Regions from separate parts of the Homo sapiens genome. Here all the other regions are linked to region 1. Evidence: fine-mapped expression QTL. A gene starts in region 1. Each other region holds a variant in brackets. All regions are shown on one strand. Distances are from middle to middle.

What was found.
Region 2: its variant is fine-mapped to the expression of ENTREP3 in whole blood (INTERVAL, PIP above 0.99).
Region 3: its variant is fine-mapped to the expression of ENTREP3 in whole blood (TOPMed, PIP above 0.99).
Region 4: its variant is fine-mapped to the expression of ENTREP3 in whole blood (INTERVAL, PIP above 0.99).

Annotation. Positions count from the first base shown.
Region 1 is chr1:155,250,835-155,258,913 of GRCh38, reverse strand. It overlaps ENTREP3 (endosomal transmembrane epsin interactor 3), which reads left to right and starts at 3,431. Exons shown (of 12, transcript NM_006589.3): 1 at 3,431-4,261; 2 at 4,458-4,514; 3 at 4,720-4,830; 4 at 4,936-5,055; 5 at 5,182-5,289; 6 at 7,009-7,181; 7 at 7,313-7,412; 8 at 7,750-7,819. The coding sequence starts at 4,037. It overlaps SCAMP3 (secretory carrier membrane protein 3), which reads left to right. Exons shown (of 9, transcript NM_005698.4): 5 at 1-88; 6 at 1,257-1,416; 7 at 1,528-1,629; 8 at 2,123-2,240; 9 at 2,495-2,933. The coding sequence ends at 2,641.
Region 2 is chr1:154,987,770-154,995,848 of GRCh38, reverse strand. It overlaps FLAD1 (flavin adenine dinucleotide synthetase 1), which reads right to left. Exons shown (of 7, transcript NM_025207.5): 2 at 7,000-7,744; 3 at 6,142-6,289; 4 at 5,592-5,690; 5 at 5,321-5,510; 6 at 3,063-3,136; 7 at 2,738-2,947. The coding sequence ends at 2,812. LENEP (lens epithelial protein) reads right to left here and starts at 2,263. Exons shown (of 1, transcript NM_001394530.1): 1 at 1,534-2,263. The coding sequence starts at 2,241. The coding sequence ends at 2,056. The variant AT/T (reference allele first, on the strand shown) is at 4,622.
Region 3 is chr1:155,963,765-155,971,843 of GRCh38, reverse strand. ARHGEF2 (Rho/Rac guanine nucleotide exchange factor 2) reads left to right here. Exons shown (of 22, transcript NM_001162383.2): 2 at 2,544-2,688; 3 at 4,957-5,024; 4 at 5,365-5,428; 5 at 6,084-6,213; 6 at 6,432-6,541; 7 at 6,713-6,856. Among named protein-coding and RNA genes, the nearest start is that of ARHGEF2, 11 kb to the left of the region's middle. RefSeq lists enhancers at 1,009-1,058, 1,069-1,248, 1,299-1,398 and a silencer at 3,516-3,747. The variant G/A (reference allele first, on the strand shown) is at 4,245.
Region 4 is chr1:155,124,518-155,132,517 of GRCh38, reverse strand. It overlaps EFNA1 (ephrin A1), which reads right to left and starts at 4,642. Exons shown (of 5, transcript NM_004428.3): 1 at 4,449-4,642; 2 at 884-1,179. The coding sequence starts at 4,540. RefSeq lists silencers at 4,692-4,751, 7,531-7,825 and enhancers at 5,948-6,787, 6,788-7,627. The variant G/A (reference allele first, on the strand shown) is at 3,853.

The DNA of each region.
Region 1 (8,079 bases):
GTTCAGCCCTGCTTTTTCCAGGACATCTCCATGGAGATCCCCCAAGAATTTCAGAAGACTGTATCCACCATGTACTACCTCTGGATGTGTGAGTAGTGAGAAGCCTTTTGGAGGAAGTTACAGGTAGATCTCTTAACTGCCCTGGGGTCCGCTCACCAAGAACCAAACACTTCACCTCTATTTAGAACTCACCAGCCTGCTAGCAAATGTTCTTGCCCTCTCCCCACTTTTTATTGTCCATATGCAGGAATATATTTTGAATTCTTTAGATGTCTTTGGGCTGGGTGCAGTGGTATACGCCTGTAATCCCAGCACTTTGGGAAGCTGAGGTGGGTGGATAACCTGAGGTCAGAAGTTTGAGACTAGCCTGATCAACATGGAGAAACCCCATCTCTACTAAAAATACAAAATTACCTGGGCGTGGTGGCACATGCCTGTAATCCTAGCTACTCAGGAGGCTGAAGCAGGAGAATCACTTGAACCCGGGAAGTGGAGGTTGCAATGAGCCAAGATCATGCCATTGCACTCCAGCCTGGGCAACAAGAGCAAAACTCCATCTCAAAAAAAAAAAAAAAAAAAAAAAAAAAAAAAAAAAGGCCGGGCACGGTGGCTCACACCTGTAATCCCAGCACTTTGGGAGGCCCAGGTGGGCAGAACATGAGGTTAGGAGATCAAGACCATCCTGGCTAACACGGTGAAACCCCGTCTCTACTACAAATACAAAAAATTAGCCGGGCGTGGTGGCGGGTGCCTGTAGTCCCAGCTACTTAGGAGGCTGAGGTAGGAGAATGGGCGTGAACCCAGGAGGCAGAGCTTGCAGTGAGCCGAGATCCTGCCACTGCACTCCAGCCTGGGCGACAGAGCGAGATTCCATCTCAAAAAAAAAAAAAGAAAAAAAAAAATTAGCTGGGCGTGGTGGCGGGCGCCTGTAGTCCCAGCTACTCTGGAGGCTGAGGCAGGAGAATGGCGTGAACCGGGGAGGCGGAGCTTGCAGTAAGCTGAGATTGCGCCACTGCACTCCAGCCTGCGCGACAGAGCCAGACTCCGTCTCAAAAAAAAAAATGTCTTTGCAAGGGGATCACACATTATTGACATTTGCTTTCTCCATCTCCCCTGTTGAGGATTCCATGAAGGCAGCAGCTGCCTTCATTTCCTTACTCTGCCATGTTTGGTGAATATTATAGGATGAGCATAGATGGGAAGGAGCCTTCATTGCAGTCCAGAAGGGCTCCTCATCCTGTCCCTCTGCCCCTTAGGCAGCACGCTGGCTCTTCTCCTGAACTTCCTCGCCTGCCTGGCCAGCTTCTGTGTGGAAACCAACAATGGCGCAGGCTTTGGGCTTTCTATCCTCTGGGTCCTCCTTTTCACTCCCTGCTCCTTTGTCTGCTGGTACCGCCCCATGTATAAGGCTTTCCGGTAAGTGTGTTAGTGGTGGGAGAGTGATGGAGACCTGGGATGGGCCCCACGTCTGCCCATCCTTCAGCTCTAATTCTTCTCCCACCCTCCCCATTTTTTTCCTCTTTGTAGGAGTGACAGTTCATTCAATTTCTTCGTTTTCTTCTTCATTTTCTTCGTCCAGGATGTGCTCTTTGTCCTCCAGGCCATTGGTATCCCAGGTTGGGGATTCAGGTTTGTGAGGCTGTTATCCACCCTCACCTTTCCCTCTAGATCCAGCCAGCACTGGGTGCTGGGATAGGAGTTGTTCAGAAAAAGGAAATGTGGTTTTAATCCTTGGGAGGTACTAGTTTAATGAGATACAAGACATACTTCCAGGATAGAGCGCAGACAGCACTCTTGACACATATAGATTGAAGGGAAGAATGCTGCATTTGGCCAATCTAAGGTGGCTTCCTGGAGGAGGCATAGAACCATGGTTGAAAGGAGGAAGAAGAATCCCCAGATGAGTGCCTGGAAGAGCTTGGAGAGCTCAGGGCTAATGGTTCAGAAACTGGAATTAAACTATGAAGAGATTAGATACAGTTTGGGATTGTGGTGCTTGGAATGCTGCTCGATTGACAGGGAGCCACTGCTGATGGGAAGGGTAGGAACAGGGGATGCTGGTGACATAACCAGTGGAGAAGCTGAGGAGCCCCTCTTCACTGGTACATCCTTCCCTTTACAGTGGCTGGATCTCTGCTCTGGTGGTGCCGAAGGGCAACACAGCAGTATCCGTGCTCATGCTGCTGGTCGCCCTGCTCTTCACTGGCATTGCTGTGCTAGGAATTGTCATGCTGAAACGGGTGAGGGCTGTGTCGAAGGTGGGGCCGGGATGGTGAGATCATGGGTCCCCAGGGGCGTGGGTGGAACATTCAGGAGCAACTGGCACAGGTCAGGCTGCTGGGTTGTTCTCAGCTAATGGACCTCTGGGGTGTGTGTTTCTGTGTGTGAGTGTGTGTGCTGGGCAGCAGGCTGCTGAGTGGTAGTGATGCTGTTAGGCTGGGGTGGGGAACCAGTGGCTGGAATGGGCGGTAATGTCTTTGTCCTCTACTTGCAGATCCACTCCTTATACCGCCGCACAGGTGCCAGCTTTCAGAAGGCCCAGCAAGAATTTGCTGCTGGTGTCTTCTCCAACCCTGCGGTGCGAACCGCAGCTGCCAATGCAGCCGCTGGGGCTGCTGAAAATGCCTTCCGGGCCCCGTGACCCCTGACTGGGATGCCCTGGCCCTGCTACTTGAGGGAGCTGACTTAGCTCCCGTCCCTAAGGTCTCTGGGACTTGGAGAGACATCACTAACTGATGGCTCCTCCGTAGTGCTCCCAATCCTATGGCCATGACTGCTGAACCTGACAGGCGTGTGGGGAGTTCACTGTGACCTAGTCCCCCCATCAGGCCACACTGCTGCCACCTCTCACACGCCCCAACCCAGCTTCCCTCTGCTGTGCCACGGCTGTTGCTTCGGTTATTTAAATAAAAAGAAAGTGGAACTGGAACTGACATCCCCGTTTCCTGAATCTTCATTGGGAATTAGGCCTTATGAAAGAGAAAGGAGAGTGTGGAGTGAGGTGGGAAGGTCGGACCCGGCTTTAGTGTAAACTGGGAGATATGAGGGGCGGGGCGGTGGAGCCCGAGTGGCTGGCGCAGGAAGGAGGTGGGAAGTCCACGGAAACGCGAAACCCGGAGACGCCAGGGAGCCCTGCTCCCCACCCCTCTCCATTAATGACGGGGAAGAGCCACCGCCTCTGCCGGGAACGCCAAGGAATACGCGGGCCTGGAGCCTGAAAAGCTGGATGGGGCTCAAGTGGAGGCCCAAAGGATCACTAGCAGCCTAGCCAGGGTCCAGAGCGAGGCAGGGACTGGAGGAGCGCTTATCCGACTGCCTCGCCCTGCCGCGGGATCCCCCAACCCCGACAGGGTCTCAGTCCCGAACTACAACTCCCGGGGTGCACCGCGCCGGCCCTCGCCGCCATGCCCCTCCTTCCCGCACCATCCCCATTCCCATCCCCCTTCTCTAGTCCCCGACCTGCGGCAGCCGGAGCTCGGGGAGCGGAGCGTGGTGGGGAGGGGAGCGGGACAGGCGACACAGGAGACAGCGGCGCCGCGGCCTCTCCCCACCAGGCGGCCCCGGATCCTACTGGACGCCCTGAGGGCACACCGACCGCGCCTCTAGAGTCACCCCACGCCGACCCCTCCCCTCTTCTCTAGACTTATTTCCATCCTTCCCGCTTTTACCCTCCCCACCCCTCCCTGGGCTCCAGGCCGCCGCCCCCTCCTCACTCCTGGACCGGCCCTTCTCGGTGCCCCTCTTCCCTAGGGAGATGCGATGAGCCGGTGCCCCCGCGTCCTCATCGTCGCCCCGGGCACGGTGCCCGTCCAGTGCCCGTGGTGGGGAGGGAGCACTCCGCGGTCCCTCCGTGACGCCCCTCGCTTGGCCCCCCCCACAGCTGGCGTCCCTCGGCCATGCCCCAGGGGACCCAGCCAGGGGGTGGGCTCTAGAGCGAGTGGGGTGGAGAGGAGAAAGGACGGGGCCTTGGGCGCCTCTGAGATGCTCCCAAGTGCCAGGGAGGGCCGAGCGAGGCGCAGGCAACCGGGCAGCAGGCATGATGCCCTCGCCTAGTGACTCCAGCCGCTCGCTGACCAGCCGGCCCAGCACCAGGGGCCTTACCCACCTCCGCCTCCACCGACCCTGGCTGCAGGCCCTGCTTACGCTGGGGCTGGTCCAAGTGCTCCTGGGCATCCTGGTGGTCACCTTCAGCATGGTGGCCTCTTCCGTCACCACCACCGAGAGCATCAAGAGGTCCTGCCCGTCTTGGGCTGGGTTCTCGGTGAGTTGGGTGCACAGTTGTTGGGTGGGGGAGGCTCCTCGGGCCCCACCCTCCACACCAGCTGCAAGTCCACATGCTTGCCTCTCCTCCCTCTCCTGGTCCTCTGCCTCCTTACAGGGCTGGGTGCATCCTGTGGTGAGGGGCTCACTCAGGAGCCTCCCCTGCCAGGCTGAGCCTGTGCCCACTCTGTCCCCAGCTGGCGTTCTCCGGGGTGGTTGGCATTGTGTCCTGGAAGCGGCCATTCACTCTAGTGGTAGGTGCCAGGGTCCAGTGCCCACTGGGAGGCAGGTGCCCAGCACGCAAGGGGAAGCCCATTTATGTCCTCAAGAAGGGAACTGGCTCCCCAGTTGGTGCCAGCCGGGTGGGCACGAAGTGTCTGTGAAGGAGGGGGACTCTGTCCGTGGCAGAGGAGTACTCATGAGGGTCCCAGCCCTGAGTCTGCACCCTGTTTTCCCCAGATCTCCTTCTTCTCCTTGCTTTCGGTGCTCTGTGTCATGCTTAGCATGGCTGGCTCTGTTCTCTCCTGTAAGAATGCTCAACTGGCCCGAGACTTCCAACAGTGCTCTCTGGTGAGATTTGAGGAGGGAGAGCTGGAAAGAACTGGCTGGGGGAGGTGTGCAGGACACCTCAGTTTGTCCTGACTCAGGCTGCCTCACCCTCCCTGCTCCACTCAGGAAGGAAAGGTCTGTGTGTGCTGTCCCTCTGTTCCCCTCCTCCGGCCCTGTCCAGAGTCGGGGCAGGAACTGAAAGTTGCCCCTAACTCCACCTGTGATGAAGCCCGAGGGGCCCTCAAGGTGAGCTTGCACCCTGCAAACATCCTCCTGGTTCTCACTCTTGCCTCCCCTGCTGGGGTACTCACAGGCCCATAATGTGTGGAACTTAGCCGTCTCCTGACTCCTCTCCTCCTTTCCCTTCCCCAGAACCTGCTCTTCAGCGTCTGTGGGCTCACCATTTGTGCCGCTATAATCTGTACACTCTCTGCTATTGTCTGCTGCATCCAAATCTTCTCCCTGGACCTCGTGCATACGGTGAGAAGGGAGCAGGGGCCAGGGCACGCAGGTATGGTGGGGGCAGGGGTGTGTGTGCTGAGACTTGCCTGAGGGAACAATGGCTACAGATCTGGCTTTTGAGCACCAGGGGCTATGGGTTATCTATTATCCTCATCTATTGGAGGAATGGATGTTTAGTGGGGAGGATGAGAAGGGGAGATGGCAGGGAGTGAGTTAAGTATGTGATGCTGGTCTGGGACCAGGAGAGGGTGCTTTAGAGAATGGGACTGGATGGTGGGGTAGAGTCAAGAAGGTCCTATGCTGGGCACGGTGGCTCATTCCTGTAATCCCAGCACTTTGAGAGGCCCAGGCAGGCGGATCACCTGAGGCCAGGAGTTCAAGACCCACCTGGCCAACATGGCGAAACCCTGTCTCTATTAAAAATACAAAAATCGGGCCGGGCGCAGTGGCTCGTGCCTATAATCCCAGCACTTTGGGAGGCTGAGGAGGGCAGATCACCTGAGATCAGGAGATCGAGACTATCCTGGCTAACATGGTGAAACCCCATCTCTACTAAACATACAAAAAATTAGCCAGGCGTGGTGGCGGGCGCCTGTGGTCCCAGCTACTCGGGAGGCTGAGGCAGGAGAATGGCATGAACCTGGGAGGCAGAGCTTGCAGTGAGCTGAGATAGTGCCACTGCACTCCAGCCTGGGCGACAGAGCAAGACTCCATCTCAAAAAACAAACAAACGAAATACAAAAATTAGCCAAGTGTGGTGGCGGGTGCCTGTAATCCCAGCTACTTGGGAGTCTGAGGCAGGAAAATTGCTTGAACCGGGGAGACAGAGGCTGCAGTGAGCTGAGATGGTGCCACTGCATTCCAGCCTGGGCGACAAGAGCAAGACTCCGTCTCAAAAAAAAAAAAAAAAAAAAAAAAAATATATATATATATATATATATATATATATATACACACAAAATTACAAAAATTAGGCTGGGCTCCGTGGCTCATGCCTGTAATCCCAGCACTTTGGGAGGCCAAGGCAGGAGGATCACCAGATATCAGGAGTTTGACACCAGCCTGGCCAACATGGCGAAACCCTATCTCTACTAAAAATACAAAAATTATCCGGGTGTGGTGGCGGGTGCCTGTAATCCCAGCTACTCGGAAGACTGAGGCTGGAGAATCGCTTGAACCTGGGAGGCAGAGGTTGCAGTGAGCTGAGATGTAGCCATTGTACTCCAGCCTGGGCGACAAGAGTGAAACTTCGTCTCGAAATAATAATAATAATAATAATTAGCTGGGCATGGTTGCACACCCTTATAATTCCAGCTACTCAGGAGGATGAGGCATGGGAATTGCTTGATCTTGGGAGGTGGGGGTTGCAGTGAGCTGAGATCGCGCCACTGCACTCCAGCAACAGAGTCAGACTCTGTCTCAAAAAAAAAAAGAAGGTCCTAGATGGAGGTGAGGCTAAAGGGTGGACATTCCTGTGAAGACACAGAATGTGTGGAGCTTCTGGATGGAGGTGGGGCCATAAAGAGGAATTTGTGGGTGGGCAGGGCCAGAGCTAGAGGTACAGGGTGAGCGTGGGGTTAAGGAGAGCTGATTTTGGGTGAGGGAGGGGCCAGAACAAGAGCTTCTCTCAGGGGATAGGGCCAGAAAAAATAATGTAGATGAGAGAGGAGTTTGGGGGCCCAGGAGGAGCTGTATTCCCAGAATCCAGACTTGCTGACCTGCTCGCTTCCCCAGCAGCTGGCCCCTGAGCGGTCAGTCTCAGGCCCACTGGGACCTCTGGGCTGCACGTCCCCGCCCCCAGCCCCTCTCCTACACACCATGCTGGACCTGGAGGAATTTGTCCCGCCTGTGCCCCCACCGCCCTACTATCCCCCAGAGTATACCTGCAGCTCAGAAACAGATGCACAGAGGTAAGGCCTGGTGGGGTCTTGCTGGGGGAGCTAAGGAAGGGGACTGGGGCTGGGCCTGGATTGCTGGAGAGAGGGATCTTTGTGGAGGGGGAATTATTTCTCCTACATTGACCCTCTTCCTCATCTGCCAGCATCACGTACAATGGCTCCATGGACAGCCCAGTGCCCTTGTACCCTACCGATTGCCCCCCTTCTTATGAGGCAGTCATGGGACTACGAGGAGACAGCCAGGTGAGAGCACAGCACGGCTTGGGGCGGGCTGGGGAGCCGGGTTGTAGCCTGGAAAGCTGAACAGGCTGTAGCCTCTGGATAAAGATAGTAACAGTGGTCAAGGTCTTTACAGCACCAGCATGCCCACTGTTGCCTTTGATCTTCCCTAGAGCCTGGTGAGGTGAGTGGGTTGGAAGCTATCATTTCTGCCATACAGACGTGGAAGCTGAGGCTGCACAATTAAGTGACTTGTACAAAGGGACAAGGCTGGTCTGGAATCTAAGTCTCCAGAGCTCTGTCTAGCACATGGGGGTGTTCAGTGTGTAGGGCTGAACCCTTGACCCTGTGTCTTCTGCAGGCCACTCTCTTTGACCCTCAGCTTCACGATGGCTCGTGCATCTGTGAACGAGTGGCCTCCATTGTAGACGGTGAGCAGGGCGTAATGAGGGGTGGACAAGGGCGGGGCTGCCAGGGATAGCTGGGGTGGGTAGAGACAATAGAAGGGGAAAACAAGGCGGAGTTGGTGGTTTGGGGACATAGGAGGGCTGTGGCAACTTGGAACCCTGGACTTATTTTTCTCCTCTGAGATAAAGCTGGAGGCACAGTGGCCCCTAGAGGCTGGGCTTGGGAGAAGAGGAACTGCCTGGGCAGGGCTAGGCCAGGCCAGGCTGGTGCTACACAGCGCCCC
Region 2 (8,079 bases), 260 kb after region 1:
GGGATAGACGTGGAGACTTTTAACTATTAGAGTTCTTTTTTTTTTTTTTTTTTTTTTATAAGACGAAGTCTTGCTGTGTCACCCAGGCTGGAGTGCAATGGTGCAATCTTGGCTCACTGCAACCTCCACCTCCTGGGTTCAAGCCATTCTCCTGCCTCAGCCTCCCAGGTAGCTGGGACTACAGGCATGTGCCACCACGTCCAGCTAATTTTTTTGTATTTTTAGTAGAGATGGGGTTTCACCATGCTGGCCAGGCTGGTCTCGAACTCCTGACCTCAAGTGATCCACCCACCTCGGCCTTGTCCCAAAGTGCTGGGATTACAGATGTGAGCCACCGCGCCCGGCCTTTTTTTTTTTTTTTTTTTTTGAGACAGAGTTTCATTCTTGTCCCCCAGGCTGGAGCGCAGTGGCATGATCTCAGCTCACCGCAAACTCTGCCTCCCGGGTTCAAGTGATTCTCCTGTCTCAGCCTCCCAAGTAGCTGGGATTACAGGCACTCACCACCTCGCCCAGCTAATTATTTTTAGTAGAGATGCAGTTTCACCATGTTGGCCAGGCTGGTCTAGAACTCCTGACCTCAGGTGATCTGCCCGCCTCTGCCTCCCAAAGTGCTGGGATTACAGGTGTGAGCCACTGTACCTGGCCTGGCCTAAAGTTCTTTACTCTGGGCATATATCACCTTTACAAAAAGAATCTAGAAAAAAAAAAGAGTTAACTAAGAAGAAGGCTGAGGAAGAGCTGGTCCCAGGCAGGGAGGAAGAGGGCACTATCTATAATCTCCAGGCCAGTGCCCCAAGTGACAAAGGGCTGGGGGATGATAACTGGCCCCCCAGGAGGGGCCAGAGAATGCTGGATGGGAATCCCAGGGAAATACTGAACAGTCCCAAACAGGCTGGCTCTGAGGTTTGGGGGGCTGTGGGTGGGCAGATCAGTAAGCATAAGCACCCCCTGAGCAAGACGATACACATGGCTGGTGTATATCTACCACCGGGAGTAACTCATGGAAAATACCAGCTGTGGCTACCAAGAGGAAGTAAAGAGCCAATTCTGCTCAATCTAGCTGTTTATGTCCTGATAGGGCTGTGTCATGATAAGCCTGAGGGACCTGTGTGGCCACACAGGTGTCTTTCTCTGGTAACTTTGTATGTGAGCTGGGAGCTCTTGTAGCTCATGGGGTCCTACTTCCTTGATGAGCTGGGGACTAGCCTCAGCGCAGTGCTTTCCCCAAGATCCTCAGAGGCAGGAAGCTGCCTGGACCAGGTCTTCTATTTGGGAAAGGGCTGGGTCCTCTGGGTTTCCACACACCCTTGGCCTCACAGATGAAGACCCTACTCAAGCTGGGTCCCCTCCTTACCCACAGATTGAGAGGAACCTGAACTGTCTTCCACCCTCCCCACTCAGGAACCAGTGAGTCAGAAAACCTGGCTTTCAATCTTGGTTCTATTCAGGACAAGCTCCTTCCCTCCCTGGTCTGCACCCTTGCTCCCAGACCGTTCTAGTGCTGACTTTTTCTGATTCCCCTTTAGACACTTATAATCTTGGGCCTCAAGGCCTATGGATTATATTTATAATTCAGTGATTCTCAAACAGGTTTCTTAGGGGGCAGTCCATTCTTGGTACTATGAGGGTATGGTAAGATCAACCATCTGAGCTGGTGGGCTCACTGTGCCAAGCTTGGAGGAGTGCCAGGTCTTGCCACAATCTTACTGGGGTCCTAGCCAGAGCAGTCCAAGCTCCTGCCCACCAGAGGTCCACCAGAGGCAGGGGTTGGGAATGAAGGAGGCTCAGAGATGAGGCAGGTCTGCTAGATGACACAGCTCAAAGCAGGATCCACACTTTACTGTTTACTCATTGTTTATGGCCCATCCTTGGTCAAGCACAGCTGGCTTCAGGAGTCTTGATGGCAATTGGGCTGGGGGCTAAAGAAGAGAATGAGAAGCTAAGGCAAGCTCTGCCACAGAAGCTGCAGCTATGCCTCCTGTTTACTCTACCCTGCCCACCTGAGCGATGCCAGCCATGGTGCTGGTGGGGAGAGGAGGCAGTTCCCTGCTACCATTAATCCAGCAGTTCCTTGATACACCAGCAGCAGAGGAGGATGTAGGCGACTTCCTTCAGGGTCCGCTGGAAGCCCTCCCACCCTGTGCCCATCTTAATGACAGGCACCCGCAGCCCAGTGTCTCGAGGGGCCCCTCCGAGGAAGAAGGGTAGGGTTTGGGCTAGGGGCTGTGTCCGGGGCTGCATGTGGGCAACAGTTCCGAGGAAGGGTGTGGGAGCTGCCTCTAGTGCCTTTTATCAACACTGTCCCCACCCCCTTCAGCCTCATGACTACAGAGACAAAGGATCCAGGGTCTAGCAAAGGGAAGGTTCTAGGCCTGGGAACAGGCTGAGTCAGCCCCTCTAGACAGGGATGGGAGGGTGGGGTTAGTGGGAGGGAGGGCCTGGCCACTCCATCTTTCATCCTCCACAGCTAGGCCAAGGCAGCTTCCCCTCTTCCAGCCCAGGTGGTGCCCTGCCTGATTGCCCTTTTCCCAGTGGTTGGCACAACTCCTGCTTTCGCCCTCTGGTGGGCTCCTGCTGAGGCTGACATTGAGAACCATCAGTGAGAGCTCCTTTCCAGCCTGTTCTGCCCTGCCCCTGGGCCCCTTAGAGTGAGCACAGCCAGTCAGAGCTGGCAGCATTTGACCCACTTCTGCTTCTCCCATCCTCTGGAGCAGGAAGACACAGCTAGAGCAACAGGCACAGTGAGAGGCACGGTTTATTGCCAGGTTATACCCTAGGACGGTGTCCTTCCCTCCCTCCTAGGGTGGGAGGTCATGTGCGGGAGTTCCGCTCCTCTTCTTCGTTCTCCAGTAGATAGGCTGGACGGTATGTGGGGTGTCCTCCTGGGCTCAGGCACTTCAGGGCCGGGTTCCGCACGGTATTCTCCCGACTCCCCAGTGATGTGTATCTGGAGCAGGGAGGGTGGAGGGCAAGCATGTGGTAGGGTGGGCGATCCTATTGGCCCTCCCTATCCCAGCACCCTAAAAACTCCCTTACCCATTCCCTTCCCCTAATACCCTTACCCTCGGTCATACAGGATACAGTATGGGACAAACAGCTGACGCAGAAAATCCCAGATGTCTCTGTAGGTCCAGTCCTGGGAGGTCAGAGTAATAGAATAGTCACAAATGCTCACCTTTCCCACTTCTACCCCTGCTGTCCTGGGAAGGGGCCCATCCATGGCTCTTCTGCTCCCTTGGCCTCTGAGGGAGGGCTTGCTATCTGATTCTCTGGTATAGCTTGCTCTATGTATGCAAAGAGAAAGAGAAGGACTTCATCTTCTCCACTCTCTGCTTTCCATTCTTGAACCACCCTCTAGTGCAAGGGTGGAGCTTGAGGACAGGGAGAAACCGTCTATTTTTTTTTTGAGACGGAGTCTGGCTCTGTCGCCCAGGCTGGAGTGCAGTGGCGTGGTCTTGGCTCACTGCAACCTCTGCCTCCCGGGTTCATGCCATTCTCCTGCCTCAGCCTCCCGAGTAGCTGGCACTACAGGCGCCCACCACTGTGCCCAGCTAATTTTTTGTATTTTTAGTAGAGACGGGATTTCACTGTGTAGCCAGGATGGTCTCCATCTCCTGACTTCATGATCCGCCCGCCACGGCCTCCCAAAGTGCTGGGATTACAGGCGTGTGCCACCATGCCCGGCCCTATTTTTTTTTTTTTTTTTGAGACGGAGTCTTGCTCTGTCACCCAGGCTGGAGTGCAGTGGCGCGATCTTGGCTCACTGCAACCTCCGCTTCCCAGATTTAAGCAATTCTCCTGCCTCAGCCTCCTGAGTAGCTGGGATTACAGGCATGCGCCACCACAGCCGGCTAATTTTTGTATTTTTTTAGTAGAGATGGGGTTTCACCATGTTGGTCAGGCTGGTCTTGAAATCCTGACCTCGTGATGTGCCTGCCTCGGCCTCCCAAAGTGCTGGGATTACAGGCGTGTGCCACCGTGCCCAGCCCTATTTTTTTTAGACAGGGCCTTTACTGTTGCCCAGGCTGGAGTGCACTGGCATGATCATGGCTCACTACAGCCTCGACTTCCCTGGCTCAAGCGATCTTCCCGCCTCAGCCTGAGTAGCTGGGACTACAGGCATTGATCAGCCCACCTCGGCCTCCCAGAGTGCTGGGGTTACAGGTGTGAGCCACTGTGCCTGGCCAGAACTTCCTGTGATGATGGAAATGTTCTGTATCTCTACTGTCTAATATGGTGGTCATTTGAAATGTGGCTAGTACAACTGAATAACTGTATTTTTTTTTTGTTTGTTTGGACGGAGTCTCACTCTGTTGCTCAGGCTGGAGTATAGTGGTGCCATCTTGGCTCACTGCAACCTCTGCCTCCTGGGTTCAAGTGATTCTCCTACCTCAGCCTCCTGAGTAGTTGGGATTACAGGTGCCTGCCACCACGCTCCGCTAATTTTTGTATTTTTAGTAGAGACTGGGTTTCATCATTTTGGTTAGGCTGGTCTCGATCTCCTGACCTCAGGCGATCCACCTGCCTCAGCCTCCCAAAGTGCAGGGATTACAGGTGTAAGCCACTACGCCCGGCCTGTGTATGTGTGTGTGTATATATATATATACATATATATATATAT[AT/T]TTTTTTTTTTTTTTTTTTTGAGACAGAGTCTTGTTCTGTTGCCCAGGCTGGAGTACAGTGGTGCCATCTCAGCTCACTGCAACCTCCGTCTCCTGGGTTCAAGCAATTCTCCTGCCTCAGCCTCTCGAGTAACTAGGACTACAGGCCACCACGCCTGGCTAATTTTTTGTATTTTTAGTAGAGACAGGGTTTCGCCATGTTGGCCAGGCTGGTCTCGAACTCCTGGCCTCAAGTGATCTGCCCACCATGGCCTCCCAAAGTGCTGGGATTACAGGCGTGAGCCACTGCGCCCAGCCAGAACTGAATTTTTAATTGTACTTAATTTTAAAAATTGAGGTATCCACATACCATCAAATTCATCCTTTTAAAGTATATAATTCAGTGGTTTTTAGTCATATGTATTTCATTCTAATTAATTAAAATTTAAGTATAAATAAATAATTAATGGCTATATTGGACAGCACAAGTCTAAGTCACTATTCTATCCACAGTAGGAAGTGCAATGCCTGCTATTGAATTTGGGCTCAATAAATATTGGTCAAAAGGATGAATGAACAGATAGCACTGCCTCCCTTGGATGATGAGGCCCCTTCATCCAGGTTCCAGGCTCTAGCCTCCCCACTACTGCAGGTGAGCTAGGGTGCAGTGACTGCTGGGGCACGTGAGACTGAAGGTGATAAACCCTCTTCCCCATTACCAGCAGTGGGTTGATGCGCATGAATGCGGGCCAGCCTGGGTCAGTGGGGCTGAAAGGGCAGAGGCTACAGGAGTAGGGGTCAGTCCGGCGGGTGCCCATAAGGACAGCCTCCAGCTGGGGGTGCCGTGCCTGCAGTTCACCCAGGGCCTGCTTCATGCTGCCCTCAGCTTCCAACATCTGCAGATTATACCTTAGGAAGAAACAGAAGTAGGGGTCGGGCGTGGGCTCTGTCAAGCTTCTCTTGGAGCCCAAACCTCCAGGCCCCTAGTACCTCTTGATAGTGTCCTGTAGAAACTGTTCCAGCTCAGGGAAAGGGGAGATGCTGCGGATATACAGGATCTGGAGGGGGTTTGGAACATCAGGTAATTTCCTGCAGAGGGGGAAGAATCCACAGGCTTGTGAGCATGGACAAGGAAATGGCTCCCCTGAAACAGCTCACTGTTCTCGTTGGCCCCTAGGACAGACTCTCACCCCTTCTCCCTTTTCCTTGTCCTTTCCATCCATTAGACCCACTTCCTCTGGGAAGCCCACTCTGACCTTTCACCTCTCAAATCTAAGCACGCATCCCTGGTTCAGGTATGTAAATCTCTCATCTCCCCAGCAGGACTGTGACCTCCCTGTCGTCAGGGATAGTGGCCTGCACATCCATACACAAGGCCAGGCACATATCATATACTCAATATGGTGGGAGAATGGAACTGAGAGGTCACCATGACTATCTCCCTCTTGAACTCCACCTGTACACCCCCTTTCTCCTTGCTTTCTGGGATGTGGAACTGGAGAAACAGATCAGGGGTCTTGTCTCCCGGGGGCAGGCTCACCTCTGCACAGCTGCATGGAAGAGGTGCAGGAGGGCAGTGCAGTCTTTGCCCCCGTTGAAGCCCACACAGAGCTGGGTGAGGCTGTACTGAGCCAGGGAGGTCTCAATGGTCTGTAGGGCACCTGCCACCTTTTTCCCCAAAGAAGACCCTGCCAAGCAGGCAGGGAAGAGGGCATCAGATGGACACATATGGCTATCAAAGGGGAGTGAAGGCATGCTGCCCTTGCTTAAACCCTTCAATATCTTCCCAGTGTTCTGAGGATAAAGTCCAAACTCCTTCATGCTGCCCGCTAGGCCCTGCAGTCTGCCCCTGACCTGCCCTGCCATCTGCCACCCAGCCACACCTCACAGTAGCCTCAGTGTCATTCCTCTGTAGCAGGGGGTGTGGGGTGTGGGCTTCCTTCCATTCCCTAACCCCATGCTGCTTCCTTGCAGGCCCTCATTCATACTGTTGGCTCTTGCCCACCTACTGAACTGATCAAATCCTCCTTATCACTCAGTTTATGTCATTTGGCCTTCTCTGACCCCAGATCAAGGCTGATCTCCCTGCTGTGGGAGATCACTCCTTTCATCACCCCATGCAGGATCACCTGTTTAATGTCCATCTTTTTTTGTTAAAACACTGGTCCATAAGAGCAGGGCATACATTATCCTATTGAGCCATATCCCCAACACCTAGCACAGTGCTGATGAAAATAGGTACTCAATCAACATTTATTGGAAGAATAATGAATTAACAGAAGCTATCTTCTGCCCTCTCAGGGATTTGCAGGAAGCACCCAACAGCCCCTGCATTACTGAGATCTGGGGTGCCACCAATGGCTTTGGGCATAATGCCCCTCCTCCATAAGGTCCCTACCTGATTCAGCGAGTTTGTATACAGCCTCACTGGCCTGCTCCACAGCGTTGGGCATGTAGGGGACCAGCGATCCCTGGGGCAAACGGGCAGTCAGGTAGGCCAAGCATTCCTCCAGGGGTCCTTCTTCCTCTGAGTCTAGAGTCAGCTTCACCTGATAGTAGTTGCTGCCCCAGTCAGGGTAGGAACCCAGGCCAAGCCTACGTCCAAAGTGGGCCTGGGCCTCAGCCAGAATGGGGGCGATGGAGGCTTCATCAGCAGCCACATATAGCTCCTTTGAGTGGAACTGAACAGCTGGGTTTTGGAATAGTCCCTTCATCCCCTCCAGCACCCGCCGCAGCAGCTCTGGAATGCCTGGGAAGAGGTAGACGTTTCGGACGGAGACCAGAGGGAATCTGAAAGGTTGACCAGTGCAAGGATCTGTGCCATAATGCAGGCGGGCAGAGGAGGGCACCAATGATAGCTTCTCCCAGCCTTCCCCTCCTAGGGCTTTGGTGGCTGCTTCCAACTTGGGGTGTGGCTTCAGCTCATCTCCAAAGGCCTGTGCCACTGCCTCAAAGGTCACATCATCATGAGTGGGGCCGATGCCCCCTGCTGTGAGGACATGGGTGAAGCGGTTGGAGAAAGAAGTGACCTCAGCTGCAATGGTGGCTACCTCATCAGGTACAACTGAGACTCGGCAAACCTGGACCCCTAGGGAGCGCAGTGTCCGGCACAGAAAGAAGGTGTTGGTGTCCTGAGTGTGTCCCTGGGGGTTGAAGGGGAAGATGAGGCCATCAGTACTGTAGGGATGAAGGGGAGGGGTTGAAGATGATGGCTGCATCCACCTGATGATGCAGTGCTCTGCTCTTTGAAGGACACCACCTCAGGCTGCTGAGGGGCCTGGACTGGACACAAGAGTGGGAAAATCCATTTGTTTGGTTTTAAAGCTGGGTCTCTGTCACCCAGGCTGGAGTATAGTGGCTCAGTCACAGTTCACTGCAGCCTCAACCTCCTGGCTTCAAGGGCCACCCCAGCCTTCCGAGTAGCTGGGACTACAGGCGCGTGCCACCACATTCAGCTCATTTTAAATTTTTTTTGTAG
Region 3 (8,079 bases), 710 kb before region 1:
ACTCCTGGCCTCAAGCGATCCTCCCACCTCAGCCCCGCAAAGTGCTGGGATTACAGGTGTGAGCCACCTCACCGGCCTCTTGCTTTTAATTCAAATGTAATACATGCTCAAACTTTTGGTTTGAGTTATATAGAAGGCTGGGAGGGCAGGAGAGGAGGAGAAAAGGGAGAGTATATGGCAGTGGGAAGAGATTTTTGGACTTGGTGTTTGAGGTCCTGTGAGGTTATTATTCAAAGGTGAATTTGAACTTCTTTTTTTTTTTTTGAGACATAGTCTCACTCTGTGGCCCAGGCTGGAGTGCAGTGGCCCAATCTCAACCCACCACAACCTCCAACCTCCCCGGTTCAAGCAATTCTCCTGCCTCAGCCTCCCAAGTAGCTGGGATTACAGGTGCCTGCCACTACGCCCAGCTAATTTTTTGTATTTTTAGTAGAGATGGGGTTTCACCATGTTGGTCAGGCTGGTCTCGAACTCCTGACCTCAGGTAATCCACCCGCCTCGACCTCCCAAAGTGCTGGGATTGCAGGTGTGAGCCACTGCACCCAGCCTGAATTTGAACTTCTAAAGAGGTATAATTTGGTGCAAGATAGGTGGAGGTTAGACCAAAGGGAGCATTTTCTAGTGGTCCGGGTAGGTAGGTGCCAGAATAGAAAAAAGGAGGCCAGAACATTTTAGAGGTTTGAGTTAGAGGCTAGAGGCAGCTCAGCTTCCTGAATAAGCCTAGGTAGAGGAGCAGTTGGCCTGCGTGAGGAGGAGGGGAGGAGAGGCTGTGGGCGGGAGAGGAGAACAGTGGCGGAGAAGCAAGGCTGAGAAAGGGAAGGCAGAGCGGGAGGAGCCTAGGAGGGAGACCCTGAGAAGAGAAGGGAGGACATAGAGAGAGCAGGAGACAGGAGGAGGATGCGAAAAATGGATGATTGGGGATGGGGAGGATGCATGAGGGGAGAAGGGATTGACCCCAAGACCTCTGGGCTCTGGACATCATCAGGCAAACCTGGAGCTTGGGAAGAGAGGCAGGAAAGAGAAGGATCTTGGGCCCAGGCACTGCAGCCCCATGCCCTCTGTCCCTGCACTGTTGACTCAGCCCCTCCACACTTCCCCTTTCTTTCTACCATTTTCTGCCCCAAGCACCAGGCCCGTGCATCTCTTCCCCTCCTCCACCTCTCAGCTGCTGGCGTGGCCTCGTGGCCTCGGCTGAGTCAGTACTGGTCTCCTAGAGTCCGGGCTGAGTGCTTCCCGCTGAACTGTAATCCTCTGTCCCCAGTCCAGGTCCTCTGACTTGGGGCTTCTACCCTCAGCCATCTGGATCCTGATTTTTGATTTCTGAGAGCCTGGGAAACCTTGGAGGGAGTGGTCTTCTCAGCTTCTAGTCCTGCTCCAAGAGCGGAGGGAAAATCCAGAGATCAGAGTCACAACTAAGGAAGGTCCTAGAATAGTGGGAAGAGTGATATCCCCCTCTTCTCACCTTCTCAGGCTTTTTGGGAATCACAGGGGCTTGAAGAGGGACAGATTGGAGGTCAGGGAGAATGACTTGACTTGCAGAGGCAGGGGCACTGGGGGAAATGGGAGACAGCAGAGATGGAAAATGCGGCTCAGAGGCTCCGAGGAAGGTGTGCGCCATCTGCGGAGATCAACACTGAAGGATGGAGGGTAGATGTCAGAAAGGACTTCCTAGGATGGGAGAGACCAGTTGGGTAAGGAGCAATAGAGGAAACTCTCCTAGGTTTTAACTCTGGAAAGTAGTATGAGAGGGATAAAAGTTAGACTGCAGGAGAGATTTTCCGCTGGAAGCAACCAAGATGGCTGGCTGAGCTTCCTTACTTAAAGATCCCAGAGTGGAAGAGTGACCCAAAGGCAGCTAGCTGCCTTTGCCTCAAGGTTAGTAGGGGACATGCTGCCTCCCAGACAGGCCCTGTGTGCCGTGGCTGAGGGTTGGTGAAAAGAGTTAGAGGTCTGGGATCCTGACCCCTGGGTTGGGGGTGGCAGGGGAGGCATTCTGCCCCCTTCAGCCAATCTAATAAGGGGATCTCCTGCCCCCCCCACTGTGACTGCCACAGAGACAGCAGATCCAACACTGGTTGTCATGGTTATAAGAGGAGCTAACTCCCATAGATTGGAAAGCGCTGGTGAGCTGGCACCCTCCGCTTCGCCTGCTCTCCCCTCCTCTCTGCGCATCTTCCCCCTAGCACAGAGAAGAGAGTACAGCAGCTCGGGGGTGAGCAGAGCTAGGGCTGGGAAGGTGGAGTGAGGACGCAGAGACCTAGAGCCAGGGAGATGAGTGGCAACAGGAGGCAGCCCAGCCGTAGGGGCCAGGTAGGTCAGGGACCCAGAACCCATCCGGGCTGGCTGCCCCAGAGCCTGGCCTGGTCACTCCCGGACAGCTGCCTCTGACACCCAGTTGCAGGCTCTGCTTTAGGAACTGGTGTCTTTCCAGCATCCTCAGGCTGGCATTTTTTCCTTGCCTCTGCCCCCAGCCTGTCTCTCTGGACTCCAGGCACCCTGGCATTTTCCAGCCTCACTTCCTCTCCCTCTCATCCCTTCCACAGACCCGGGAAAAGGAGAAGATGAAGGAAGCCAAGGATGCCCGCTATACCAATGGGCACCTCTTCACCACCATTTCAGTTTCAGGCATGACCATGTGCTATGCCTGTAACAAGAGCATCACAGCCAAGGAAGCCCTCATCTGCCCAAGTAAGTTGTTTGGACCCTGAGAGTCACCCAGACTCGGTGCCCACTGACCCTGATCTTTTCATCTGTTTTTTCTGCCTGGATCCATGAGGGTCACTCTTCTCTCTGATCCCCAGCTGGGCCCAAATGCCAGGGCCAGTTGCTTGATCCCTTGCTCCCTGTCCTCACTCTGAGGGGTGGTGGCTGTTGGAATATGGCATAAGCCGGACTATCTGGGAATGTGGGGGAGGGGAGGCTGTGCTGGCTCCTCTTGCAGCTGTCATCCACCAGGCACCCCCCTTGCTCCCCGAACAGCTGCTAAGGGTTAGGGGAACTGATTGGAGAAGGAGCAGGAATGTTGTATGTGTGGAGGGGGTGGGGTGGGGGGTGACAGAGGAACTGGGTGGAAAGCTGCCAGCCTTGCAGCTGGCTCTGCCTGTCTTCCTGCGCAGAGCTGGGCATTCAGGACTTCACAGTCCCCTTGCCCCTTTCTTTCTATTGACTATGGGTGGAGCCTGAAATCTCTGCTGTTTCAAGCAGAAGATGTGATTAGGACCCTTCATCTCAAATTTCTAGTGAGAAAGAGGGAATGTAGCAGGGATGTGTGTGTTGAGGGGCAGGGGTTAGAATTCCTGCCCTTCATCCACATCTGAGTGTAGTCCTGTCTTTAGGGAGTATAAGCCAGGAATTCTTTCCTTCCCCAGTACACAGAGGGCTCCTGCTGCCCCCTCTCCCTCAATTCCTCCTGAAGTTATGGCAGAGATGCCTCTGATTAGAGCAGGATTGAAGGTATTGTGACCTGCTACTGAATAGCGGACAAAAGCTCTAGCCTGTAAATCCCTATGAAACTTGGGGAAGGAACCCCCAGAAAGGACCAGTGATGGGCAACCCGCTCGGGTCCCCTTCTACGCTGTGGGAGCTTTGTCATTTTGCTCTTCACAATAAAGCTTGCTACCGCTCAAAAAAAAAAAAAAAAAGAAAGAAAAGAAAACCAGTGAAGCCTCCCTACTTTCCTCACTGTTCAATTTAGAGTTGTGAGGATGAGGAGGGAACCCCAATCTAGATCCCTATAGAGACCTGACAAAATTCCCAATCCGGAAGCTTGTTGCCAGGGGAACAGGGGAGGCGGGCAGCACTATTTTGAGAGCAGGTGGAAAGCGGAGGTTCAATCCAGAGACACTGAGTGTTGGGGGTAGGAGAAGGGAGCTCCAGGGGGGTGGGGGCAGCTGCAACCCCCACTTCTGTCTGCCCCCTCTGCTCCACCCTGTTTGCCTTGTATTTGTGGAAGTGAGCGTGGTGCTGGGTATTGTCTGAAAGAGTTAGCAGAGTTTCCGGTGTTGTTGGATGGGGGAGGGGAAGCTGGAGAGGGCCGGGAGCTGAGGGCATGTCTGGGAAGGGCACGGCCAGGGTCCCAGTGCCTAGGCTCAGCGAATCCTCCTTTCTTCTTCTCTCCTACCCCATGGCAAGGTGGGGTGGAGGATGGCGGAGAAGCAGATGGAGTGTGGGAGCTGTGGATTTGCCTGAGTTGGGGGAACAGGACTCCCTGGGCCTGGAAGGGAGAAGGCCAGGCTTGGTGGGGA[G/A]TTGCCTGTCCCTTCTTTACCACTGGAGCCATCAATCAGCCTTGGAGCTGCTGAGGCCCAGCCAGAGTCCAGGGCATGTGGTGCGAGGGAAGGAGCACGGCCTTTGGATTCAGGCCCACCGGAGTGTAAACACCACCTCTCCCACTAGCCGTGTGACCTCTGATGGACGATTTAGCCACTCCAGGACAGGTTCCTCATACATGAAATGAGGATAACTGAACCTCCCTCTACGGGTGGTTAGGATTAAGTAAATGTGGAACATTTACTATTATAAAAGCTCAGGGAATGTAAATTTCCCCTCTGCCCCTAGCCCCCATTCTGGCTGCCTCTGTGCCATCTTCTGTTCTGTGGGAGTCCTCTCTTCCATCTGCCATTCGCAACCACCTTCGTGCTTCTTGAGCTCATCTCTGGCAGCCAGTGACCCCTGCTCCCCTCTGGTCCGCCCTTCAGGCCACCTTGGGGTCAGGATTGCCCATCCCACTTGATTGTTTAATTTCATTCAGCACCTATACCCCCCTCACTTCATTTCCTGCTTGAAGGAAGAGGGAGGTGGGAGGAGAGGGACTGGGGTGTGGTAATGGCCCAGAAGTCGGGGAAGGGGGGAGAGTCCCCGAGGACTGTGTGGCCAGGAGGAGATGGGTGTCTGCATGTGGGTGTGTCCCCTCCTGTACCACCCGGCCCTCCCTTCACCCTCTCTACCCCACCCTCCCAGCCTGCAATGTGACTATCCACAACCGCTGTAAAGACACCCTCGCCAACTGTACCAAGGTCAAGCAGAAGGTGAGACGGCAGGGAGGGCAGAGGGCTGGGGGAGAGGGTAGTGAGTGTGCGGTACCCTCATGCCTTTTCCATTCATTCCCTACCCTGTGTTTCTCACCACCCACCTCCTCACCAAGGGGCAGCCCAGACCCTCAACCCCAGGCCTCGGGCCCCAAGTAGGCCAGGCCTGTTGCTGCAGACATGTCCCCACAGCACTGGGCTCAATCACCCTGATCCCCTTAACCATAGTGCCAGCTTTCTCCTAAGGGGGCCGGCCACCTAGCTCCTGTCCCATGCCTCTGGGGGTGATCCTTGGGTGACAGCCATTCTTGGTATCTCTCTCCTGCTCTCTGTCTCACAGCAACAGAAAGCGGCCCTGCTGAAGAACAACACCGCCTTGCAGTCCGTTTCTCTTCGAAGTAAGAGTGAGTAGTTGGGGAGTGGAGGAGGTCCCCTAAGACCCTGGACCCCAGGCTGCTCAACCCATGGGCTCTGCTGCCCCACTAAGGTTGTTCCCAGGCATAGCACCTTCCTCTTCTTGATTGGAAGCAGATAGTGGGGGCCTAAGGGAGGGTTCGGACTCTTGGACTTAGAGGCAGAAGGGGAGAGAGAGTCCGAATGGGGATGAGGGCTGGGGATGGGTGGTCGCCTGAGCCTGGCCGCAGCCTGCATTTTTATCAGTTATTTACACTGCATTTCGGGAGTGTTGGTAGCAGCTGTCAAGTGTCAATTCAGACAGCTTTGGTGTAACAGAAAGAGCATGGCCCTTAGGTATAAAGAGCAGAGCCTCAGTCCCTGCCTAGCCATTACCCAAGTCACCCTGGACAAGTCTTTTTGTCTTTCTGAGCTCCTGTTTGTTTATAGGCTTATGTCAGGGAGGAGATAAGTAAGAAAAAGCTCTTTGTGAACATTAGAGTATGGCACAAATGTAAGGTGGCATTCTCATTACCATCTTTCTTGACTAGAGGGGCTGAGGTGGAGTGAGAGGATGCCTCATTCCTCATTGAGGAGCCTAGGAGGCCTCAATCCTGGGAAGCACCAGAGTCTGATGTTTGCCTGCTGGGCATCTCTCCCCCACAGCAACCATCCGGGAGCGGCCAAGCTCGGCCATCTACCCCTCCGACAGCTTCCGGCAGTCCCTCCTGGGCTCCCGCCGTGGCCGCTCCTCCTTGTCTTTAGCCAAGAGTGTTTCTACCACCAACATTGCTGGGTGAGCCTCTGTTTGGGGAAAGGGGCAGCCAGAGAGTGTGGCAGTGGAGGCCAAGGGGGTGCTGAGAGGTCCCTTTCCATCCCTGAGTTCAGAACTGTAGACAGACAAATAAGGAGAACTTAGGGGGACCGCCTCTTGGATCCTGGCTTTGGTTCCCTACCTGGGAAGGGATCTTTTGCCCGACTGGGGGTGATGCAGACAGCCTCCACTTTCTTCAGACATTTCAATGATGAGTCTCCCCTGGGGCTGCGCCGGATCCTCTCACAGTCCACAGACTCCCTCAACATGCGGAACCGAACCCTATCCGTGGAATCCCTCATTGACGAAGGTGAGCAGGCCTGGGCCCAGGGGAGCCCTGAGGAACATGAAGAGGGGCTGGGGGATGAGAGGCTGGTGGGAGTAGCCTGGAAGGACAAGGAGGGAAGGGATCTAGAGAAGGGCCAGGGACCCAGGGAAGGGAACTCAAGACCTCTGAGTTGCTTGCCCTGCTAATGTCCAGCAGAGGTAATCTACAGTGAGCTGATGAGTGACTTTGAGATGGATGAGAAGGACTTTGCAGCTGACTCTTGGAGTCTTGCTGTGGACAGCAGCTTCCTGCAGCAGCATAAAAAGGAGGTGATGAAGCAGCAAGATGTCATCTATGGTAAGCCAAGACCACCCTAGTCTTCCTCTTCCTTCACCAGGTCCTGTTTATCTACTTCCTTCTTTATTTTTCTTTTTCTTTTTTTTTTTTTTTTTGAGATGGAGTCTCACTCTCTCAACCAGGCTGAAGTGCAGTGGCATGATCTCGGCTCACTGCAGCCTCCACCTCCCAGGTTCAAGCGATTCTCATTACAGGCGCCTGCCACCATGCTGGCTAAGTTTTGCATTTTTAGTAGAGACGGGGTTTCACCATGTTAGCCAGGCTGGTTTCAAACTCCTGACCTCAGGTGATCTGCCCGCCTCAGCCTCCCAAAGTGCTGGGATTACAGGCGTGAGCCACCGTACCCGGCTGTGTCCTTCTTTCTACCAGCCCCTACCTCTCAAAACCCTTTCCCTCTTGGCCTACAAGACCCTGCCTGGTATCCCACAGGTTGCCCACTAGGTCCCTACCTCTTGATGCTGTTGGTCTCCAACACCCTCTCTTTATCCCTTCTTTATCTCTGTCTTCAGTCTTTACTCTGTGCTTGTTCCACGCTTAACACCGTGCTGGAGACTGTGGGAAGCCTCGACATGTAGAAGACATATGGTTCTTACCCTAAAATAGCTCACAGCTTGAGATGATAAGGTGTAAAGATAAAAAATGGAACTGGGCGTGGTGGCTCATGCCTATAATCTCAGCGATTTGGGAGGCCGAGGTGGGAGGATCACTTGACGCCAGGATTTTGAGACCAACCTAGGCAACAAAGCAAGACCTCTGTCTCTAAAAAAAAAATATATATATATATATATGTATATATATATATATATATATATATATATATTTTTTTTTTTTTTTTTTTTTTTTGAAGCAGAGTCTTGCTCTGTCGCCCATGCTGGAGTGCACTGGCGCTATCTCGGCTCACTGCAACCTCCGCCTCCCAGGTTCAAGCAATTCTCCTGCCTCAGCCTCCCAAGTAGCTGGGATTACAGGCGCCTACAACTACACCCGGCTAATTTTTGCATTTTTAGTAGAGACAGGGTTTCATCATGTTGGCCAAGCTGGTCTCGAACACCTGACCTCAGGTGATGCACCCGCCTCGGCCTCCCAAAGTGCTGGGATTATAGGCGTGAGCCACCGTGCCCAGCCGTCTTTAAAAAATATTTTAAAAAACTAGTCAGGTGTGGTGGCATGTGCCTATAGTCCCAGCTACTTGGGAGGCTGAGACAGGAGGATCGCTTGAGCCC
Region 4 (8,000 bases), 130 kb after region 1:
CCAGCACTTTGGGAGGCTGAGGCGGGCAGATCACTTGAGGTCAGGAGTTCGAGACCAGTCTGACCAACATGGTGAAACCCCATCTCTACTAAAAATACAAAATTAGCTGGGCGTGGTGGCAGGTGCCTGTAATCCCAGCTATTTGGGAGGTTGAGGCAGGAGAATTGCTTGAATCCGAGAGGTAGAGGTTGCAGTGAGCAGAGATCACACCACTGCACTCCAGCCTGGGCGACAAGAGTGAAACTCCATCTCAAGAGTAATAATAATAATAAAATAAAATAAAATAAAACCCATCAGTGGCGAGAGCCCTCAGGATAAAGTCCAAACTCCTTATCACCTTTTAGTTCCCCCATGGTCTGTTCTGTCCACCTCTCCAGGCTCACATCTCCTCACTTCCTGTGTCCCTCCAACTCCAGCCAGGCTGAGCCACAGGAAGTTCCCTGAAGATGTCATGCTCCCTTTGTACGTGTGCCTTCATGCCTGGCCAGCTCCTCTGCTTGTCCTGAGCTCTGGGACCATCTTCCCCACTGAGCCTTCTCTGAGCCCCATAGCCTGGCAGGTGCCCAGGTCATTTTCCCAAGGCCCCTGTGTTCATGTCTACTGTAGCACACTGTTCTAAGGGTCTCTTAACCTATGTGTGTTTCTTCCCAGCTTCCTTGAGGACAGGGGCTCTGTAGTGTTTTATTTATCTTTGTGCTCATAGCGCTAAACAGAGTGCCCAGCACATAGTAGAAGCTCACTCACATTGGGATGTAGATGAATGAAAATAGAATTCAAGATCGGAAGGGGCCCTCTGCTGCTGGACTCTACACCAAGCATGTACCCAAGCATGTATGTAATGGCAAAAAAGAAACACAGACACTGTCCCCTCACAGGCACTCACAGATGTAGTAGTAGCTGTGTCCTTCTTTGAACTCCTTGCCCAGGGTGAAAGGTGTGAAGCGCTGGAACTTCTCAGACAGCTTCTCCGGGCCATGCTTGGCACTGGGCCGGTTGCACTGCCAGCGGACTTGGTCCTTGGACTGGGGCTGGCACAGCTGGTACTCCTCATGCTCCACCAGGTACAGTATGTACTGCTCCATGGCAGCGTCTGCCACAGAGTGATCTTCATAGTGCGGACAGATGATGTCCACGTAGTCATTCAGCTGCACATGTATGGTGTAGTCCTCATTCCGGAACCTGGGGACACACACAGGGGGAAGAAGCAGGTGGTCATTCAGAAGCCAGGCCAGATCCTTGGGCCTCTGAATGTTTACATGACCTCTCACATTTCACACTGGACCCCAAGAGATTTTTCCGAAGTTTCAACTCCCAATATGTACTGATCTTGATGTCTTACATTTCTCTCTGCCATCTCTAAACATTCCCCTGCACCATCACTGTCTCCTGTTGGTCCTTCAAATAGCATTCACTCAGTATCTTTCGGGTACCAAAGCATTTTCCATAACCCCCCTGATACTTACCTGATATTTAGATGGGCTTCTACCTATTTCTGTAGCTCACTTATCATTCTCTTCTACCCATAAATATTTCCCCAAATCTGTTCTACCAGTTGCTCCTTTTAAATGCTGTTAGGCCTCAATCTGAGACCCCCACAGGTCCATTCTGTAATCAGAATCCAGGAAACCCTTTCTCTTTACCATGCTAGCCTGGAGCCTCCAACACATCTGTGTCTTCACTTTCCTTACTCCTCTCACATTTCCCCGGACCCACTGAGTAGATCTCACATTTCCCAGCTTCACTTTTCCTCAAAAGTGAAGCTAGTATACCCGGGCCCACAGATAATGCCCCAGTCCTTTAAGTTAAATCACTCTCATCAATTCATTCAGCCCCCTCAAATCTTCCCGTTCTAGCTACTCAAAGTTATACACTGGTCTCCTTTTCCCCTTCTCAGAGCACCCCAAAACAACCCTGTCCTTTTATCTCTAAAAGCCACACTTCCACCTCCCCCTAGATGAAATGCTGGAGCTCTGAGCTTGAGCTTGAGACAGCCTCTCCCCTCTCCCCTCTCTCCCCTCTCTCCTCCTCTCCCCCTCTCCCCTCCTCTCCCCTCCTCCCAAGGTGGAGCCAGCACCCCTCCCCTAGTTCATTCCCCCTGGCCCCACCGGCTCCAGCCTGACTGCCCACCAGCCCCTCCCCACCAGCTCCAGACACCTGGCTCCAGCCTGGGTGGGGTCCCAGTAGGGGGAAAAGTGCTTCCCCCGACCCCGCAAGCTGGTCAGTTTCTCTAATTCCCCCAGGCACTGCCAGCTAGAGACCCAGCAGAATTAGCGCTAAGTTGCTTCGAACTGAAAGCCCTGGCCACGGCTGGGAGGGCGAGGAAGGAGTCAGGCAGAGAGGACTCGGAGGTGGGCACCCACTGCCCAATCAGCATGACCCCTGAGAGGCCAGGCTTTGCAGCAGCGTGCCAGCGCCCAAACTGGGCTTACCAGGCCCCTCCCCCACCCTGGGGAAAAGAGAGGAGCAGAGAGAGGCTTTTAAAATTCCTCTCTGGAGAGATAAACATAGAAGCCATTTCAGAACAGGTATTTCAGCTCTGGGCCTGGCGTCTTTCCCTCATTCCCGTGACGGGCACTGACTCATTCCTCATCCACCTCTGCTACCCGCCCCAGCACTCATGAGAACTTGTGAAAACTTACCTTGTCAAATGTGCACAGCCCCCAGGACCCCAGGAGGGCACAGCGCCCACTCACCCCCAACAGTGTCCTCCAAACAAAGGGAGCTGGCAGGTCAGAATGAGGGGCCTGCCCTCCAGCATGAGGGAGGCTGGCGCCCTTCTCAGCATGCTGCCCCCGCCTGAGGCCTGGAGATCCCAGGGCTGCTGCCCACTGGCCTGAGTCACCCATGCCAGCCTCACCTACCCCGTTCATTGTAGCCTCATATTTGCCCCCACGCTGGGCCCAGCTTGGCTGCCTACGGACTCTACTCTGGACTGGCGTCTCTTTAGTCCTGGGTATGATAGGGTGTGCGTGTGTGTGTGTGTGTGTGTGTGTGTGTGTGTGTGGCCAGAGGGTCACCCATCAGCCCCCTCTCCTGGGGGTACAGTCTGCTGTACTTAGCCTTCATTTGACTCTTGCTCCCCATCTGGGAAAGGGGGGCAGCGGCGTCAGGGAAGGCGGGGAGGTGGGTAAGGAAGAGGCTCCTTCCTGAAAGAGAGGAAACCTGGGAGCTTGGGAACGGAAAAGGCCAGGGTCCCCCCCTCCCTACTCATGGCTTCCTGTCCCCTCCTCCTCCTCCAGTCAACACCTGGCATGGGCATAAACAGGGACTTTGCTCTCTCCCATACTAGGGCGAGATGCATCAGGTCAAGGAGGCAAAGCACAGGGAGCGGGTGGCGGAGGGCTGGCTGAGCCTCCCCAGCGTCCATGGGCAGGAGGGCATTGCCCTCTGGGGTTGGCAGCTGGCTGTTCTCTCCCCCACCCTAACAAGCCACAGACAACAGACTGCCTCACCAGACGATGACACGGGGTCAGAGGAAGCTGGCACAACATATTTCTCAAGGGGAGTGGGGGGCAAGCTTGCTAGGGCCGAGAGTGGCTAAGCCGGTGAGATGGCTTTCGTGATACCAAGCTGCCCACTTCTCTCCCTGCTCCTCCCTACCACCCTCTCCTGTATTCCCTCAAATATTGTTCCCATAACTTCAGAAAACTCAAGGGCAAGAACAAAGGGGCCGACAGAGTCTTCCTCCCAGTACCATTTGCCTCACAGCCCTAAACCTGCCCAGGAGAAATTAACTCCTTCCTGCCCAGAACCTTCTGTAACCCCTTTAACCTCTTCTGTTCATTCTGAAGCTTTCCCATGATCTCCCTCTCCCAGCTCTTCGCTTTTACTACTTGAGAGCCCCATAAACAG[G/A]TGATTCCCTCAGCCTACCCATGCACAGCATGTGCCTCACTCATGCCACCCCAAAAGACCCCTAGTGAGGGACTTTCCAGGTTTGCTTTAAATACAGGGTGAATGCATAATGAATGCCTACAGCCCAGCTCTCTCCTGAGAGGTCCTTCCAGGGTTACCTTGAGCATTCTGTGCACTCTTGATGTCACACCAGGTATCTGTCAGTGTGGTCAGATACCCAAAGGACACACAAGGAGAGGCGTGGAGGCTTTCACAGTGGGGGGGTGGGGGGCCTGGAACAAGGGCCCTGGCTGCCAGGGGCGAAGTCTATGCTGAAGGCAGGAACTGCCCAGCATGAGTCCCTCACTTTAGAGTAATAGGGGTGCCAGAGAGAAGGAAGGGAAGGGCAGATATAAGCCCATGCAAGTAGACACAAGCATGCCCCGGGGTGGGGTGCTCCCAGATATGACGGAGAAGTGAGGGGAGGAAAATCTACAGCCGCCCTCCTACCTCGGTCATCTACTCTAGGCTCAGCTCAGGGTTTGGCCGGGACAGTTATCCCGGTGGGGTAGTGCCAGCCGGGAGCCCAGGCTGCCAGCGGGAGTCTCGAGGCTTACTTGGGATTTGAACTGTTCCAGAAGACGGTGTGGCGATCAGCAGCGGCCAGACTGCAGCACAGACCCAAGAGAGGGGCCCAGAGGAACTCCATAGCGCGGGGCCTGGCCAGGCCGAGCGGGGACGCGGGTCTCCTATGGGTCTGGGTTCCCACTGGCTTTCTCCGCGGCGCAGTCAGCGCTGGGCTCACAGATCTGGCCCCTTCGCCTAGCGACTCCGCCTTTTGGGCCGGCGCCGCCCGACACCCCGCCCCGCCCTCGCCCCGCCCGGCGCGCGGCTGCCTGGGGGCTTGGGGGCTGGGGAGGTGGAGGAGGGGCGGGGTGGGGAGGCGAGGAGGCTGGGGGTGCAGGAAAGAGCGAAGCGCGCTCCTCTGCCCCCGCAGATCTGCTCAGAGATGTGTGTTCGCTCACTTGTGGGTCTGCGTGGAGCTTTGTGAGCCTGTCCCGGTGGTGGGCTTGCGTCCCTGGGCGCAGTCGCGTGCGGGAGAAGGGAAGAACTCGCAAGTGCGAGTCTGCGAACGCGGGGGTGCGGGACACGGCTTTGCTGCTCCGCGCGCGGACCTTGCAGGGTGCGAGGTTGTTGACATGCCCCGCACCTTTCTGAGCCTCGCATGCCCAGGCTCGGGCGCCCGCGTTCCCACACTCTCCTCCTCCCCCATCCCCTTCCCGGACTCTGCGCTTGACTGCCCCTCCCCACACACACGCGGCTGTTTGTTTTTGTTGGGTTTGTCAATGTTGTCTTTGTTCTGGAGATTGTGTCATCGCCTAGATGCCGGGAATAAAGTGCAACGCTTTGTGTGATCGAGTGTGTAACGTGTGCGGCCGGGGCTAAGGACGCCTCTGTCCATCACATCAGTGCCTGCCCGCAGGAGCGACACGCGGGACCCTGGGCTCGAGAGGGGGCCGTTCTTATTTTAGATAAGTCAAAGAGCGCTAATAACCTGAGTATATGTAACAACACACGCGTACACCGTGCGAACAGGCTCTTGAATATGGACTGTGAGAATCTGGGCATGAAGGGTGACAAACTGTAACCACACATGAAATACGTGTGATGGCGCGCTAGCATGAAAGCATTTGTGAGTAGTATCACAGCCGCGTGTGTGGAAGCGTGTGAAACTCTTTGACAGACGTATGCTAATGTTTGTGAACAGCGTGTGAAGAGGAGGGGAGACGCGTACCGGCGTGCAGCGGGGGTGGGGTGGAACGGAGGGGCGTTTGTGCGCAGTCCTCAGGCTGCACAGCTGGAGCTGGCCCAGTCTGAGCTGGGGCTCCCAGTCAGTCGGGCCCCAGTACCCGGCTCAGGCCCCCTCCCCCGCGCTGTGTAAACAAACCCACTGGAATTTGCCTCTCGGGGCTCTTCTCCCCGCCTGGATCTGCTGCCGTCTGGAGAGGGCTTGGCGGGCGGGTGTCAGCTCCTGGGGTGGAGAGGGCGGGCAGGTGTTTGATTAGGCTCACGAGTGAGCCTGGAGTGGGAGAGCCGAATGCTGTGTGTCTGCGTGCGTTTGGTGGTTTACGTGTGTGGTTGTGTGGCTGTGTGCGCGCCAGGTTGGTGTTGTGAGTGTGTGTGCGCATCCTCAGCCGGCCCTTCCCTGCGGCTGCGCATCGCGGGAAGCCACGGACCCGGGGCCCCTGGCCAGCTCCGGCCCAGCTTCTCCAGTTCCCAGGCCGTTTCATCCTCCTATTTTACGGCCAGGCCTGGCTACAGCCCCTGTAATTACGCGGGGCCCGGACGCCGCAGCAAGTCTGGCGCTGACCCCGCCGGGGAGGAGCCTGGAGCTGGGGAGGGCCCAGCCGGCTCCCCACTGCACCACCACGTGCGCTGAGGCCGCTGGAGGCCGTATTCGCTGCGTTTACAATAAACATAGAGTACCAACGGCCTCTAACCCCGTGGCCGGGTCAGGGCCGGGTTTTGCGCACGGCCAGCGCCACCCCCCTCTCCCTCGGGCACCTGCCCCAGGCGACGTGCCCAGCCAAGCGTTTGTCCGAGGTGCGGCCCGCTCCTCTCGCCCAGGACGAAGTCCACCCGCCGACTGCTCCCAGGGCGGCACCTCACGCGCCTTTTGCTCACCTAGGAGGACACCTGGGTGTCGACCTCCCACGTGGCCCCGGCGAGAGTACTGCCTCCCAGTTCGGGCATTCCATAGAGTCAAAGCTCCAGGAGGACATGGGTTTTTGTTTTGTTCATTATCTTACTGCCAGCACCTGGCACAGCATCTAGCACATACAGTAGATGGTCAGTAAATATCTGTGGAGTGAGTGAAATCACTCACTGTTCAGTGAAGGAACTTAACTTCTGCTGGACATAACTGTTCTGAAAAGGAGCCAGCAGGGGGGTTGAAGAGGGGAGGGATGCTGGTAGCTCTTTAGAGCAGGTGGCCCGGGTTGCCTCCTGGAGGAGACAGCTTTGGGCCGGATTCCCTGGTTTCTCTGACCACTGGGACTGGGCGGGGACGTGTGAAGTCCCACGCTGCAGCTGCTTGGGCCAGGCAGGTTCGGGCTCGCTGGGCCCAGTCTGGCGGGGCCACGTCAGCTCTTGCCTGCGTCTAGGTCTGGAGCAAGCTGGGTGCAGAAGCGTGCATGGAAATTCTGCGCACCGACAGGACCCGGAGCCCTCTTTCCCTGCTTTGGTGCTGTCCCCAGTATTCTCATCTCACTTAGGGCATTGATCCCATCACTCTCTATCCACTCCCCTATCCATATGGGGGTCGATCATCCACCCTACTGGAGCAGCCCTAGACACTGAGTGTTGTGATGAGCTGGGTGTTGCGATGGGCACCGAGAGTGTAAGGATGGGTTTAAGATAAAATCACTACCTTGGGGAGCCCCCAGGCCGGTAGGGGATATTGACAAGCCACCAGGACAGCAAACTTGCTAAGTGCTCAAGCCCAGACTGCGGCCCTACCACTCACAGTCACACTACCCTGACCCTTCCTGGAGCCCCTGCAATGCCTGCTGTGCTGAGAGGAGAGTTGCAGGGCACTGTGCCATTCAGACAGAGATAATAGTAGGGACTTCTGTTCCTGGAGACTCGATCTGCTGACCAACTCTGGGGCCCCCTCCCAGTCCCTTCCTCATGCCAGCCCCCAGCCTGCCCGGGTGGGTCTGCTCTCCATTCTTGCTTCGTGCTGCCTCTCGCCGCAAAATTGTGTGCTTGTGTTGGCTCCCAGCACGTCACCCGCAGGCAAACATCTGCGCTTAGTGACGAGAGCTGCCTGAGGTGTCTGTCTGTCTGCCTGTCTGCATGTCTAGGAAATTCCTCCATGAGTCCTTTCTGGAAATTCCTGGGAGGGCAGGAATTTCCTCAGAGGAAATTCCTCTGAGGTCTTGGGGTAGGCCCTGGCTGCCTGGAGGCAGCATTTCCAGTTGGGAACAGGTGCAGGTACTGGATTGCGACTCCTTTGCTGGGTGCCCTGCAGTTTGGGGAGGGGAAGGCCAGAGCTGCAGGGCCCTGGGGCAAGTGAAACCTGGCTCAGCCCCAGGGGTCATCTCTGGGCAATGGGGTGAGGCAGCAGGGGGAGGAGCAGAACCTGGGCTGAGAGCAATCTCTGTCGT